Regions from separate parts of the Homo sapiens genome. Here region 2 is linked to region 1. Evidence: fine-mapped expression QTL. Tissue or cell type: adrenal gland. Region 1 holds a variant in brackets; the other region holds the start of a gene. All regions are shown on one strand. Distances are between the middles of the regions.

What was found. PIP is the estimated chance that this variant, and not a neighbour inherited with it, causes the effect.
Region 2: KHDRBS2 starts here. The variant in region 1 is fine-mapped to the expression of KHDRBS2 in adrenal gland (GTEx, PIP 0.96).

The regions. Positions count from the first base shown.
Region 1 is chr6:62,213,268-62,221,623 of GRCh38, reverse strand. The region is part of intron 1 of KHDRBS2 (KH RNA binding domain containing, signal transduction associated 2); the gene reads left to right. Among named protein-coding and RNA genes, the nearest start is that of KHDRBS2, 69 kb to the left of the region's middle. The variant A/G (reference allele first, on the strand shown) is at 3,529.
Region 2 is chr6:62,281,454-62,289,809 of GRCh38, reverse strand. It overlaps KHDRBS2 (KH RNA binding domain containing, signal transduction associated 2), which reads left to right and starts at 3,585. Exons shown (of 9, transcript NM_152688.4): 1 at 3,585-3,952. The coding sequence starts at 3,862. RefSeq lists a silencer at 3,636-3,725.

The DNA of each region.
Region 1 (8,356 bases):
GATTGTTTATTAATTTATTTTTACAGTTTTATGTTCTTTTTAAATTTTTTTTTGCATATAAGTTGGTGTTATCAGATACATGTAGATAACAAAATGGTTAATAGAATGAAGCAAATGAACATATCCAGCATCTCACATAGTTAACCATTTTTTCTCCTTCGTGGCAAGAGCAGCTAATATCTACTCAATTAGCAAAAATCTTGAATACAGTATTAGTAACTATAGTCCTAATGTGGTACATTATATTTCTAGGTTTGTTTAGCCTATCTATCTGCTGCTTTATATCCTTTGACATATATCTCCCCATACCCTCTACCTTAATCCTAGTAACCACTGTTTCATTCTCTATCTCTGTATATTCAACCTTTTAATTTTTAGATTCCTTATATAAGTGATATAATACAACTTTTATTTTTATGTCTGGTTTATGTCACATAGCATAATGTCCTCCAGTTTCATTCATGTTGTGGCAAATGGCAAAATCTTTTTTTTTTTGGTATGGCTGGGTAATATTTCATTGTATATATGCATCACAGTTCCTTTATGTGTCAGTGGACACGTATTGCTTTCATATCTTGGGAATTGTGAATAATGTGCAATGAACATGGAAATGCAGATATCTTTACAAGGTGGTGATTTAATTTCTTTGGGGTATATACTCAGAATAGAGATTTCTGGGTCATATGATTAATTTATGTCCTTTATAAACAGTAAATTATTAAGCATTTATTTGTAATCTAACAAATTTTTTCTTTAAATTGGAGCTTTAATTTCATTTCCATTGAAATAGTCACTGACATACTTGCTTTTAAATCTATCATATTCTGTTTTTATTTGTCTTACTTGTTTGATGTTACCATATTTTTTCTTGGATTCCCTTCTGTTGATTATTTCAATATTTTATTTTTATGTGTTATAAATCTCTATGTTCTTATGGTATTCTTTCATTCATTGCCCTAGAAATTACAATATGTAATTTCTAATGTTGAATGATAATAGTCTAATGTTAATTGTTAATTCTACCTTCCTCCTGATCAATATAAGTACCTTAGAACACTCTATTTCCATTTACTGTTATTTACCCTCTTAAGATTATATGCCAATTTTACTGTATATTTTAACTATGTACTTGTGTGTGCATTTGCTATACATACTTGCATACATACATACACTTATGTATATTTGTGTATATGTGTACAATGTATAATTTCCACCAAAATATTGTTACTGTTTTACTAAAGAAAATTGTTATTTAGGTTTCCTCATGTAGCTACTATTTCATTGCTGTGCTTTGTCCTTTCATCTATGCACTCTCATCTGAGATCATTTATTGCTGAAGAAGAAATATGTTACTATTTAAATTGTACAAGTTTGTTGGTGGCAAATTCTCTGGTTTGACTGAATTGGTCTTTAGTTCACCTTCATTTTTGAAAGATTTTCATTTTGTATAGAATTCTAGATTGTACTTTTTTTTGGAATATTTGAGAACATCATTCAATTGCTTCTGGCTTACATTGCTGTTACTGAGAAATTATGTCAGTCCATCTCATGCTCCTCCCTAGAAATTTCTTTTTTCCCTACTTATAGTATGTTCTTTGTCTTTTTTATTTTTAAAAATTTCAAACATACAGAATATATACATATGTACTATATATTCAGATAGTATATACAGTTATATATATACTATTAATATATATATATAATTTCAAGTATAGATCTATATAAAATGATTGTATATACAGTTATATATATAAAACTATGCACATAATTTCAAGTTATATATATACAATTATATATACTATCATATATAGTAACTATATATCATATAGTAAATAAAAATATATATATAAAACTTGAAAATAAATTAAAGATGTGCAACTTCAGCCCTAGATACTTCAGTGTGTGTCTCCTAAGAATAAGGACATTCTCTTATGTAACTATAGTGCATTATTACTCTTAAGAAAAATAAACCTATATTATCTAATATCGATTCCATATTTTAAAATCCCAAATTATTTCAAAAATGTTTTCTATAGTGAATTTTCTTCTAATATGCATCTTTTAGGTTGGTAATGGGTTTTTCAATTTTATTTTACTATTTATCTTTGTATTTATTTTTCGCTATTTCATGTTGATATAATCACACATGAGAATTTGTTTTTGTTTGTCATTTTTAGAATTGATTGTAATATTGAATTTGTGGATTGATGTCTTTAATCAGTTTTGGAAACTCTAAGCTATTATTTATTTATGGTTTTTTCCATTTATTTTCTCTGTTCTGTTCTTCTGGCACTCTGATTCAATTTATGTTAGTTCCTTTCCCTCTGCTTTCTGTATCTCTTATAATCATATATATTTTTCTCTTTTTTGGTCTTTACACTTCCTTCTACAAAATCTCCAAGTTCATTAATTCTCAAGTTAGCTGTGTTTCATCTGCAGTTAAATCTGCCTATTTAGTTTTTTATTTGTATAAATTTAAGGAATACAAGTGCACTTTTGTTACATCCTTATACTGCATAGTGGTGAAGTCTTGGCTGTTAGTGTGTTCATCAACCAAATAATACATATTGAACCTATTAAGTAATTTCTCATTACCCTGCCCACTTCTTCCCCCCTGTGCTTCTGAATCTCTAGTGTCTGTAAATCAACACTGTATGTCCACATACATATTATTTGGCTCCCAATTATACACAGTGTTTAACTTTCTGTTTTGAGTTGTTTCACTTAAGATAATGGCATCCAATTCCATTTATGTTACTGCAAAAGACATGATTTTATTTTCTTATGGCTTAACAGTATTTCATTGTGGATATATACTTCATTTTCTTTATCCAGTTATCTGTTGATGGATACTTAAGTTGATTCTGTCTTTGCTACTGTGAACAGTGTTGTGATAAACATGTGAGTGAAGATACTTATTTTGATAAAATGACTTCCTTCAGATAGATACCCCATGTTGAGATTGCTAGTTTTTACTTTTATTTATTAAATATTTATTTTCTGGAAATTCTGTTTGATTTTATTTTAAATTTATAACATACCTCTTTAAATGTTACCAATTCCTGGCTAAAGTTTTTAGTTTCAAATTTTATCTTTATACATATTTGATATCTGTCTTTTTCTGATAATTTTCACTTCTGTACTCTTTCTGGGCCTTTGCCCATTTTCTTTTGTTTGTGTTGGTTCTGTTCATGTCATGTTATCTTTGCTTGTATACCTGCCATTGTGTGCTGCAGATTGTTATTAAAAATGCTTGAGGAAATAATTATATGTCTAAGATGATAATATCTGATTCTAAAGGGGATATTCTTTTGCTCTTTTAGATACCCAGAACATTGGAGATTTTAAAAATCACTTTAATCGTGTTTTAAGGCTTGGGATTGTTCTCGTCTACTCAGATGACTAGCAGCCTGGCTACCATCCATTGAGGGCTGCTTTCTTTTGGTATATCCTTACTCTTTTTCCATTTGACTACTCTTGACTCCACATTTCATCCCTGTAGCATGAGAGGTAATGAACATGCTGTGC[A/G]GTCCCTTTGTTGTCTCTTCCCGTGTTGGCAAGATGCCCCAAGGGTGAAAGCAAACCCAAATGCCAGACTTATCTCTCCAGAGTCACTCTTCTCTGGGACCTTGGCCGAGTGATTCCTCCTCTTCATTAGTCTTTTGTTGCTTTTAATAAGATTTTTAAGTATTAAATCAATTTGAAGGATTGGTTCAAATTATCCAGTTGGACAGTTTTGAAAACAGAATCTCTGCCCTAGTGTCAATCAATCATTAATTTAAAAACTTCACTTATATAAACTTTCAGGATTCTATATTTTGATGCTTTATGGATTCTATGATACTGTAGTTTTATCTTTGGCTTCTTCAACATAAGTCCTCATAATTATAAAAAACAACTTATGTTTTATTGTTACATATGTAAGACAATTTGACACTTTTATTAGACTCAGACTGTTCTAATCAAGACATCAGTTGATCATTTTTCAAGAAAATGTAGCCTAAATGTCATTTTTGTAAGCCTATCTCCAAGTACTCTACCTAATTATTTTTCAATCTCTGCTGCTTCTTCAGTATTTTGCTAATTTATAAATCACATTTACCATATTGTATTACCAACTATGTGTTTGAAAAGCAACTCTTCAATTATAAAGATTGAGTCTAAGACAGCATTTGGAATTTAGTAAGTCCACAGTAAGTGCTAAATAAATTATATATGTTTACTTCTAAGTCAGAAATCTTGACTGAGAACAATCAATTACATGACGTTGAATATATACTCCTTAAATAAAAAAGTCACAACCCAGTTGTGAAAGGCTTCTATATATGAATTTAGCTTTTTTTTCTGGTCATTTGAATATAGGATTGATTGATTGTTAAAGATCTGGATTAGTGACAGTATGATTTTAGGTTCATGAGAAAGACTCAGCTCTTATTGAAAACGGCGAAGAGACATTGCTCCTTCTGCATTAAGCACATGCATTATTCTCTGAATTGATTTAGTGTTTGAAATAAATAATAATGTAACACAGATGTTGTAGATGAAAATAACATAGTGTCAGGGTTTGTTCTTTGGCACCTTTTTTTTTTTTTTTTTAATCAGATCATCTCTTTCTGAGAAGATATAAAGACTCTCAGGCCAGGAAATTTCTATAGTCTGTTAGTTCACATCTTTCTGATACCAAACCCTATAACCCCTGCTAAATGTGTTGAGTCCCTGATTTTAATAATAGTATTTGGCTTCCCAGAAGCCTAAAAATGAGTAAATATGGTCTAATTTTACGAGGTGCAAACTTCAGTTTTCCTGTATCTCACCGAAGTGATCTAGGCTTTTGGTCATCTAAAGTCTATCCTGGTCTACTTGAAACTGGTACTTCTCTCATTGGGAGAAAAACGTTAAGTGCTTAATAAAACAAAAAAAAAAAAAAGAGGAGAAAGAAATATGTTTAGATTATTTGAAGCAGGTGGATCAAACCTTAGTCATGTGGCTTTCTTTTCTTTACTTCCCAAGACCACCACCATCTCAGTGCATCATTATAAAGACTCCTGTGGAACTTCACTTTCACAGAGACATTTAGAATGAATATATATTAAATACTGATGATGTCTTATTTTGCCCTCTTAGATCCCTAACCTTTAGGTAGCTATTGGTATTATGGCATAGTAAACATTTCTGTGTGTTGCATAAGAACTTTTAGATTCCATGTTTAAAACAAACATATTAGATATGCTCTGCTGAGAGCTTTTAGAGGTCCACGAAAGAAATCATTGTACTATTAGTTTTATGCAAAAGTGTCAATCAACCTATTCTTGATCATATTATTCAAACTTTTGTTGAATGATTCTAAATTGTCATTGAGTATCTTCTGTGGCAATGTAAATTTTTTCATACAGTGATTCTAATCCTTGAAAGCGAGTTTTCTTGGGTTTATTGGGAATTTAAATGTAAAATCTAAAAGGAGTCAAATCAAAATTTTTACAAATCAGGCACAACTCATGTACCTTTTGGCTAAGTAAGGATTAAAATGTTGAATCTAGTTGGGTTAAGATCAATCCAACATGCATGAACATCTTTATAAAGTACAAAATCTTTAAAATTAAAAGCTATATATTATGAGAAATATTTCTTTTTATAGGTGTTATTTCTGAATGTGATACCAACTTCACGGAAATATAGTTTATGACATATAAACAATCATAGAGTATCATATTAATCTTTTCCTGTACTGTATTAATATTTACATTGATTATCTCTCATTTAAGTAAGATCCCAATTTAATGAAGGTAATACCTGTTTGCAACTTTGGCTTCTTCAACATAAGTCCTCATGATTATAAAACCTATGATTCTGAAAATCTATGATTTATTAAAGATTGTATTTCATAATCGGGCTGATCACTGGTATTCTGGAGTTATGAAACCAAAATTATAAAAACATTGTTTATTCCGGTGGGTTGAGAAGATTATGGGAAGATACATAAACAGAATAATTTAAATAACCTAAGGAAGTAATTATTTTCTAATTTAAATATTATATGTATTATTTTTAAAAGGCGTATTTTTTTATTGTGGTTGGGGCTGGCATCTTCACAATGTCTCCTATTTCTTTTCATGTGAAAGATCCTCCAATGACTTAAAGCTCCAGAGTGCTCTCCAGTTTCTCAGTTCCTTCTATCTGCAGGGAGGAGTGGCTTATATGGTTGAGTTGGAGGAAGGAGCTGAGTAATCATAACCAGTCTCTATCTCCTTCCGTCTACAGTAAGCTACTCTCCCATAGGAAAGGTGTATTTTGCTCTGCACCTTCATGCTCTGGATTGTAATGGGCAACACTCTTCATGCAAGTGAGGATATATTGCACTGCATGTGGGTAGGTGAGGGGGGACATATGTCTAATTCTAGAGCTCAGAATTGGAAAACTCTCTTGTGTATATAAGTTATATTTTTTTAGTTTCTTTTACAGTAATAATCTGATATTTTTGTCTTTCTGCTGCTTCACTGTTATTTTTCAACTGGTTCTGACTTCCCATAGAGAAAAGGTATGCTACCTGTTAGACAGACCTCTGTTAGCTTTCTAAGGAAACAATGGAAAATTCAACAAAACTGTTGAGATTTTGGATGGATTTTAAATTTTTTTATCTTATGTCTTGATTTGTATGTATACTTCTGTCCTTAAGTAACTGAATGAATAAAAATGTGAATGTCAAATGAAGAAGAACGTACAGTTGGAATTGTTGATAGAAGAGACAAAAGCTTTCAGCTCTTCAGCTTTGGAAGAAATAAAGGAAAATTGATTATTGTGATATGTTACAGAAAGAAGAAAAGCATATGTGAGACGTACTTAGCATCCAGCTAGTTTCGCTGCTCTGGGTAAAATCTGTATGTGACAGAGACTTGTTGGATGATGCTCATCCAGTTTCCTCTTTTGAGCACAGAGAAAAATCTACCTTCCTAGGTCTCCCTTTCAGATAAATTGCAGTCATGTGAATGAGTTCTGGTCAGAGAGATGTGGGTAAAAATATTGTTTGTCCACTTCCAGTCCTGCTTCTGTTTCTTTTTCAGTGCCCTCAAGTGGCTGTTTTTCTTGATTATGTCTTGGGCTTACTTTTGTTATCTGTGGGAGGATTGGTCTGGTTAGGTCTTAGCCATTAAAAACAGTCAACTTTTAAATGGGTGTATAATTTTTGTAAGTTACTATTTCTAGGAAATTTTATCCTCTGAAATTTCCTATTATTACAGTTTTCTAGGGTCATGATTCTTAGTATTTAAAAAACTAATAATACATTAATTTCATACTTACCTGCATTGTTATAATCATTAATGGCTGTTCTAATTTGATATATAATCCTTTCCTGTATATGGAAGAATGATATAAAATGTCTATACTGTGGTTGAAAAAGTAAAGGGTATATCAGCAGTCACAACATCAATATACTTTGCACAAAGAAATTTTGCCATGGATGGATTTTCAGAAATATAAATCAAATCTCAAGAGTAAACAAGTGAAGCATCAGAAAGATTTGAACATACAGAGAGACCTGCAAGAGATAGAAGATAAAGCTGTTCAATTTGCCATGGATAAAATATTAGTTTGTTAGCTATTTTCTAAATAAATTTTATACTTAAATGGCTAAATATTTTATCATCATGTATTTCTCTTGCTAGAAAATCTATTTGAGAAAACAAACACACATGTATTAGAAGTTGGCTAAGATACTTCATTCTTTTTTTTTTTTTTTTTTTTTTTTTTTTTTGAGATGGAGTCTCGCTCTGTCACCCAGGCTGGAGTGCAGTGGCGTGATCTCGGCTCACTGCAAGCTCCGCCTCCTGGGTTCACGCCATCCTCCTGCCTCAGCCTCCGGAATAGCTGGGACTACGGGTGTCCACCACCATGCCTGGCTAATTTTTTGCATTTTTAGTAGAGACGGGGTTGCACCGTGTTAGCCAGGATGGTCTTGATCTCCTGACCTTGTGATCCGACCGTCTCAGCCTCCCATTCTTTATTTTAATAAGGATACCATGCCCCAGACTTGATTCATCTCTGAAATATGACTACAGTTTGGTTTCTTCTTTCCCCATGATTCTGCTAAGTATTTTCTATCAAGGTTAGCCCTTCCAACATTCTATCCCTGCTGAAAGCCTTTCTTACTTTCACTTTTCCGATTTTCGTTTGATTTTTAAGACTTTTATCTTTTCATTAACCTTCATGATCCCCCCTCTGCTGGATCCCTAAAAGAGGTGGGGATCCACAGACCCCTATTCTCAGAATTTTTTTTTTCATATTCTGCGCTATGCAACTGCAACCTCAATCTCGGGACATAAAAAACACTTTGGCATCTTCTCCCCCAAACTTGCTTCTA
Region 2 (8,356 bases), 68 kb before region 1:
TAATCCTTGGAGTAACTAGTCAAGAGTAGCTAATGTGGTATCCATAAAGTTAATAAGAACTCTGGAAGCAACAGAAACTGTGCTCTACTTGATAATGCAGGCTGGGTATTTTTTTATTAGTTTGCAAGGATTAGTCTGATTAAATGCCCTTTAGCCTGACCTTTCTTACAAGGGTGTGTGAAAATATTGAATATACAGTTTGTGCTTTAACCACAGAACATATTCTATGGTGCATGACTTATTCATCCTTCAAAACCAAATGTGGTTGGGGCAAAATTTTCTATAATATCCCATTTTAAAAATAATGTTAAAGTTACTAGAACTCCATTAAAAATGTTTTGGGGCTAGAAGTCATGTTTAAAATAAGATAAATCTTTACTTAAGTTAGGCAAATCAATTCAGTGGTGATTTAGGTTATTCATATCATTAGAAGAGGTGGGTTAAACAGCAGTTATAATTTATTCAAGGGTAGACACAAAATATTCTATATTCAACAATCATTTTTTAAAGTTTTTCTGTTTACATTTATGTTTATAAAATGTTTGCATTTTCAAGGTTTCTCTGAGAATATTAAAGGATAATGTTGTACCTGTAAAATATTTGCATGTGAAATAAATGGAGAACATGCAGTAACACAGAGCCATCTATTGAAAACACGTGGATCTGATGCTGGATGAGTGTATATGTAGGGCCCTTGGTGTTTGCCTTTATTTAGTCATATTCTGTTTAAAAATAGGCAACATTTTGTGAGATAATTCTGAAGCATATTGATTTTTAAGGGTCAATATACTTATATATCTTTATTTTACAATGTCCATCATGTAGTAAGTACACAAACTTTTCTAAAGATTATGTTAGAGTTTATTTTCTTTTGATTTTTTAAGTTGCATAAATATATTGCTTTGTTAGAATACATTTTAGGCATTTGATGAGGGATTACCTGAAGAACTACAAATAATAAATCTTTAGTTTTGATAATAACTAGAAAATATTAACTTGACTGTATTTATAATGACTTGAAGACATTGTATAATAAAGTCAGCACTTGGACAGCTCGCTGTGGTATCTTCTTATTAATCCTGTAATCATGGAAAAGATGGCTGTGAATAATAAAGTAGTTGTTGTTGCTGGACATTATAAGAGTTACTACACCTTCTTCATTCATGAAACTGGGTTTCTGCACGTCTCCATCCTCACCATATGCTTTTAATGTCTTGATATGCTGCAAAGCAAAATGTTATTGTAATTGTAAAATATTTTGTTCTAATTTACATTTATTCGAAAACATTTACAGTTTTTTGCCTGTGGTTGGCATCGTATTCACCCTTTACTACCATAGCAAATCGTAGCCACCTCTTTTAAGTTTGAAGCATATTTTCCCTTTATATCCCTGTTGCAGACCAGGTGCAGGATGCATGACCCTTCAACTACTAAACATTCTGCACACAGATAAAATAGCAAGAACTTTCTGTATATATACTCAATTCTAAATAATAGCTCCTTTGAAAGTAACATAAGAATCAGAAAGAGATTAAGAAGCACATCCAGAAAGATACCAATACTTTATGGTCCCCTATTACACTTAGAATAAAATCCAAATAATTTTCATTCATCAAATCTTCAGTGTTTGTACACATCAATCCCCCCTCCCTTATTGATTCCATTCTTTCCCATATTACAGTAGTCACATTGACCTCAGTCAATTCCAAAAGACAGCACAGTTCTTTCCACCACAGGGCTTTTTCAGGGGCAAGTTCCCCTGCTTGGAATGTCTTTCTTTGCACATTGTACTCACTTGGTTCATTCTTTTCCATGAGTTTTCACCGTAAATATCAGCTGCTTATCGAGATTGTATGTTTACCCTAGTCAAAAATAAAGAAACTAATGTCTTCCCTTGTATTCTCTTTCTTAACTCCTTGGTTCATTCTTGACCTTTATTGCAGTCAACAATTACCATTCCTCTTGTATACTTGGTTTTATTTATCTTCTCCCATTAGAAAACATCTTTGTGATGACAAGGAATGAATGTGTATGTATCTTATTCACCAATGTTTCTCCAATTTTAAGTACTGTCCCTAGACTCTTTTCAGTATCCAATAAACATTTGTTGAATGCACACATGCACAAATAAATTAAATATATAACACACAGAAAGGTAGGTTGAAGCAGTATATTCTGGATATAAATGGTGCTAATATAGAATTGAATTTTAATCTCAACTTCAGCATTAACTAGACATGAGACGATTTCTCTGTTTTGCCTCAGTTTCCATATTTATACAAACAGAGAAAGTAATACTTGGCTGGCATTTTTCAGAGTGCTTCTGTGAGGACGTATTGAAATAATCAATGTGAGGCACGTTACGTTATTTAAACATTATACAAATAAAAGTTAATCTCCCGAATTTATCTAAAAATTAAAAGGAAAATATTTAAATACAGTAAGATAAGTTGGAAAAATTTCAGCACATTTTATTTGTAGCAAAGTTGGCCCTCATTCTTCCACACCAAAAATAATGGGGGAGAGAAGAATCAGGAAATGACTACTTATGAAACGAGAACCCAAGACTTGGGGAAAGATTGTTTCCTAGCGATTGAGGCATGCAAGTTACATTTTATAGCCGCATTGGTAAAAGAAGGATGGGCTTTGCCTCCACGCTTGGTGATATCATGAGGGTTTAACTTTCCTTTAAATAGAGGTGGGATAATACAAAGTAGCTCAGCAACAGTACCTGGTGAAAGAGACTGGCACATCTAAAACTAGGAGAAAGGGGAAAATTAGAGCAAACGTGGTTACCTATTTTCTAGTCTCTTCTTTCTTCTACATGTCTTCCCAATTCTTTCACAAACTGTGACTAATGAATCATATTGTTTTTGGTTTTTAAATTCAGCCCCTCCCAACCTCCCTTCCACAGATAGGGTCTGGGGAAAGGAGGCACGGATAGGTTACCAGAACTAATTCAATATCCTAATGATTGTACACCTCAATCATGTCTCTGCACAATATTTCTTCGAGCCGCTTTATTTGTTTATCAATGAACATCCTACTGCGTCCCTGAGATGTAGGTCATCGGAAATACCAGCTGCCGATCACATGCAGTCTTCATTGTATTTCCAGACCCAGTGCGCTGCTGATTCCTGCACAACTGGAGTGCGCCTGAGCTGTGTGAGGGAAAGGAGACACCTGTGCCTTAGGGACGCAGGTGAAGTCCCATCTACCTTCCTGAGACTTTCCCTGGCGCTTTTCCACCCTCTCGGGTGGCTCACTTCTCATCTCCATCTCCCCTGTCCACTTGTACTCAGACCTCTCTCTTTAACCTGCGCTTTTCCCGCGCTCTCTCTCCTCTGCGCCTTAGCTGAAGACACAGAGAACTCCACAAAACTGGGCATGCCTAATAGCCAGGGAAGGCTTGGGCGCAAGAAGAAAGCGTTTGCATCTTCCGAGCTCCCTTCCCCTCTGCAGCTGCCTCCTGCCAGTCAGGCCACCCGACTTGCGCTACCGCCCAATGAGAGCCCGCGGCCTTCTGCCAGCGCCCCGCCTCTCCTGGCACCACCACCAATGAGTGGTTGGCGGAGGTGGGCCGCGTCCTGTTCCCGCCTCTCCAGTTAAGGCCGCTGGTGTGAGCCGGGGCTCTGCGCGAGCGAGGGACGACGGAAGGGACGGGCAGGTGTGGGCGCGGGGCCACGCAGCCCGACGGCGGGAGTCGCAGGTGCTGGGTGCATGGGCCAGTGAGGACGCACAGAGATCCCTCGCCGCGCGGAGGAGGAGCAGCGCGGGAGCCAGGCGCTGCCCCAAGACCCTGCCTGCGTCCGAGCGAGCGGAACCTCGCGCTTCGCCCGGGGACAATCCGAAGTCCGCGCTATGGAAGAGGAGAAATATTTGCCTGAGCTGATGGCAGAGAAAGATAGCCTGGATCCATCTTTTGTGCATGCGTCGCGCCTTTTGGCAGAAGGTAGGACTTGCCCCCACAGATGGGCACAAACCGCCGGCTGCCTATCTCACCCGCGGCTTGATTAGGGGAGTGAAGTTGGGGAGGGACTCCTCTCCCCGCCTTCGCAGAAACTGTCCCCCTGAAGATGCTCGCCTTAGAGCTCGGGCGGACAGACCCCGTTCTTGGGGCGGACAGCAGTGCTCCTTCTCCACGTCTTAATTTGGAGAAGACCAAAGCTACGGAGATCTAATGGCAGTGGCGATGTGACCTGTTAGGATCATTGATAGAGAAACCATAAAGTGTATGTAACGCGGTCTACAGGGACATTTTCACTTCGCAGAGGGAAGGGAAAGCAGTTTGGAAGTAAATGGTGATCAATGTAGTGTTCTAAGAGCTTCGTAGCTACAGATCGGTATTTTTATTTTTATTTTTTGCTGCATTTAGGAAGTGATTTTTGATACCCTTTAATCAAAGTCTATCCTATGGAAAGTGTTAGAATTAACCTATGCATTAAACTATGCATGTTCTTATATGTATGTTAATGTGGTAAGTAAAGGCTAAAGTGCTTATACATTTATTTGAAGTGTGATGATTGGGTACTCTGTGAGATATTGGTCCCTGGGAACACTCTATAATTGATCAACTGTTTTACCAAGTGTGCATTTTCTTTTGTGTACCTGTAATGTTAAAGGGGATTTCATTCCTAGAGGAACACATATGTCTTGTTTTTTGCATTGCTTTGAAAGGTTTTTTTTTGAAAAAAGACACATGAACTTTATTAACCGAATTACTCCATTTATGTTATAATAATGCCATCTAAATACTAAAGACACCTATGGTATCTGTAGTTACTTACCCATGCCTTTTTAAAACATCTGCAGATTTTTTTTAGATGAATGCTTCATTAATAATGAATTGCTTCATCATCAAATTGGTTACAATGCAGTTTTGTAGCTAAGTTTGTTATGGACTTACATACAGCAAAAAACTAAAACGGATAACTTCCTCTACCCAAGCTCCTCAGTATTAAAAGATTTTTTTGAGACTTAGTTGTACCAAGGAAGAATAAATTCTGCTCCTCAATATATGATTTAAATAGGCATTAGCTATATTTTTTAATTTATGAATTGTTATTTATATTAACAATGAAGTGTAAGGTATTTTTCTATGTTTAAATACTAAACAATTAGGAAAAGATTTATATTCAAAACATGGAACATGTGAAATAACTAAACTGTTTTCAGGGAAAAAGCTAGTTTTATAGATAAGTGGGAAGGTGAAATACAATTATGCCTACTACTTTCTTGGTTACTGAATGAAAAAAAATATAAATTAAAGTGGAAAAGTAAAGTCAATAAAAACGAACTTTTTTTACTTTCCCAAAAAAGACAACTACATAAAAATAATAGCAAAATAATGTGTTAATAGATGTTTAAGATTGTTTGAAATGATTTAAAAGGCAAGTCTTACCAGTCTTCAGTATCTTTAATATATTTTGAATAGTCTTCAATATATTTTCCAGAATTTTCTTTATGTAGCTTATAATATGTCTTTAAAGTGAAAAAAAAGTTACAAATTGATCATTCTCTCTGACCCGCTAATTGGAGTTCTATTTGAGACAAGTGGCTCAAAGATTAATTCATCAGTCATTAATATGAGTTATTGTACTTGAAGACGGCCAAGCTAAATAAATGCATACAAGAAACTCTTAACAGAGTGCATAAGTATTTCTGTGGCTGGTAAAACAGTCAGAGAATGCACTTGGTTCCTTAACATTTTATCTTTCCTAGGAACTTGATTTCTTGATATAATACTTAGGAACATGTTCTGATGTACCTTGTAATTTGATTTTTTCCCAGCAGGGGGAAGCATGCCCTGCTTTTGTAAAGAATTAGAAGGAAAAGCTCCTAAATAGAGAAAAACATCTAAGTAAGAAACAAAGAGGTTACCCAAATTTCAGAGAAATCAGAATGAGGAAAAGAGAATGGAGGAGGTTATAATAATCTTGGAGTACCTAAAGAGTTATGCAAAAGGGTGCATAGGTTTTATATTAGCTCTCTGTACCTGGGGCTCTTTACATGTGCTAATTAAAGAGTGTAAGATGATTGTTCTTGGAATCTCAATAATCTTAATGTATATTTTATGGTATAGATCTTTCATTATCTTTCCAAAGGCCAGTTGCCAAGATGTCCACGCTTAGTTTCAGATCTCTATAGAAGAGTATGGTTGAGATTATTTTATTTCTCATACCTGAGAATGCACTGATTGAAGGGAGTGGCTGTAAATAAACCTGACATAGATATTCATTTGGAAAGAAGGTGCAAAGTACATTTCAGTCAGTACTGTGCAGACAGTGTCAAGCCTGAGTGAGTAGTAAAAATGATACAGATGATTCAGTTCTTCAGAATGATTTTCCGGAAGCTAATATATATAAAGGCAGTAGTATAAACCAATGAGATTTCACAATGATTTATTTTGCATTTTGATTGGTGATACAGGCAAATCAGTGCTCAATTGACAGTGCTTCATGTAGAATTGAAGGCTGTGGGGTTGAAAGTACTAGTTGGATGTTTATTTGGGGTTTTTGGGGGGTCCATTGTAGTTTGTTTTATTTCACTTGTTTGTGCTGTGTGTTTTCAATGAGAATGATTTCAGTTGATTGTTACTCAGAAGAGTTCTTGAATAATGTAGTTTGAAGTTTGTTTATAATATGCTTAAATAATTAAAATAATGTTCATCCTGCGATTATAATGTTGTTTAGTTATCCACTTGTTATGGTAGGTGCTTTTGAATATGATAAAACAGCAAACTCAGGACTATCCTTAAAGTTCTACTCAGTGTCTGAATTTGGTTGCCAGATGAAATTACATAAGTTTATTTATATCTTTTCTGCTTCTGGGAAGTGCATTAAACTGTGAATCTAGATACCTAGATTTGAATTCCACTTTAACCTCAACTGAATCTGGGTAAGCTTTCTTTCCCTGGGCCCAGTTTCCTTGTCTCTCAAATTAAGGAGTTGGACTAAGTGATGTATATGTTTTTTTGCAATTCTAATTAAGTCTCAGGCTACTGATGATACAACGAAGTGATGTTTGTATATTCGGAACAAAAATTCAATGGCTGCACATTTTTGAAACTTTTTTCATTCTTTCCTAGTTTAATGATTAATAATATATTTATGGCACTAAAATGTAATTTGAGGCATATACTTTATTTTGGGTACTGGGGACAGATTTATGTTCTTAAGTCTATTGAACTACTATTAATGTTTGAGGCCAAAAATGTATATACATGAAAATATTATCTGGAAATATTCTGTGTCTGCTGACAGACATAGATCTGTTCAGATTTATATATTCAGTTATGGTGATTCCATACTCCTAGGAGCATTATAAATTTTTGTCCAATTAAGAGAGGTTTGGGGAAGATTTTCTAGCCTGAAATCTTTGCAAGCACTGAAATAATCATAACCATTTTGGTTGACTCATTATATGACGATGTCAAATATTGCCAAATATTCCAGCAGTTCGAATGGTTTTCAAAAAACTGTAGGCGCTATTTTCAAACTTTAGTAAAAAGTTTGACCTGCCATCTAGACTTGGCCTTTATTTCTGCAGATATAAATGAGATCTTAAAAATATTAAGAAAAGAGGGATTAATACTTACCACACATGCAAACTTGTGAGTTAACTACATTTAGATTATCAATAAGAACCATTTTTTAGTTAGATCGTGTTTCTTAAATATTTTTCATAAAGCTTGATAAGTTTTTTAATTAAGGAAAGTTATTAGTGTCATGTCTAAAACAGCTTCTGGTTAAAAAATAGTGTTCCTGTGACTCTTTAAAGTGACTTTTCTTTTGATTAACGTAATCACCTTTTTCTCCCAATAGACTTGGGATAATCTTATGTTTCTTAAATACAAAACAAACATGGGCAAAAAATTAAATTCAAGTTATCTTTGATCTTCAATTAAGACAATTTATGATATAGTGGAAAATTTCTACTTTGACAAGAAAAACACTTGGGAGTGATTATTGACACTTCTACCTACTGGGAAATAAAGGATGTGTCATTTTTTTTCCACCTCTCTGATACTCAGTTTCTTCATCTATATAACAGGAAAAGTGATACCTACCAGGCAGGGTTCTTTTAAGATGAAAAAACAAAAACAAAAACAAACAAACAAAAAACAACTTCTGCTTGTGATGCTTGTGATAACATAAGCCGTATTTTAAAAATTTATTTTATTTTATTTTTGAGACAGAGCCTTGCGCTGTTGCCCAGGTTAGAGTGAAGTGGTGCGATTTTGGCTCACTGCAACCTCTGCCTCCTGGGTTCAAGCAATTCTCCTGCCTCAGCCTCCCAAGTAGCTGGGATTACAGGTGCGTGCCACCACACCCGGCTAATTTTTGTATTTTTAGTA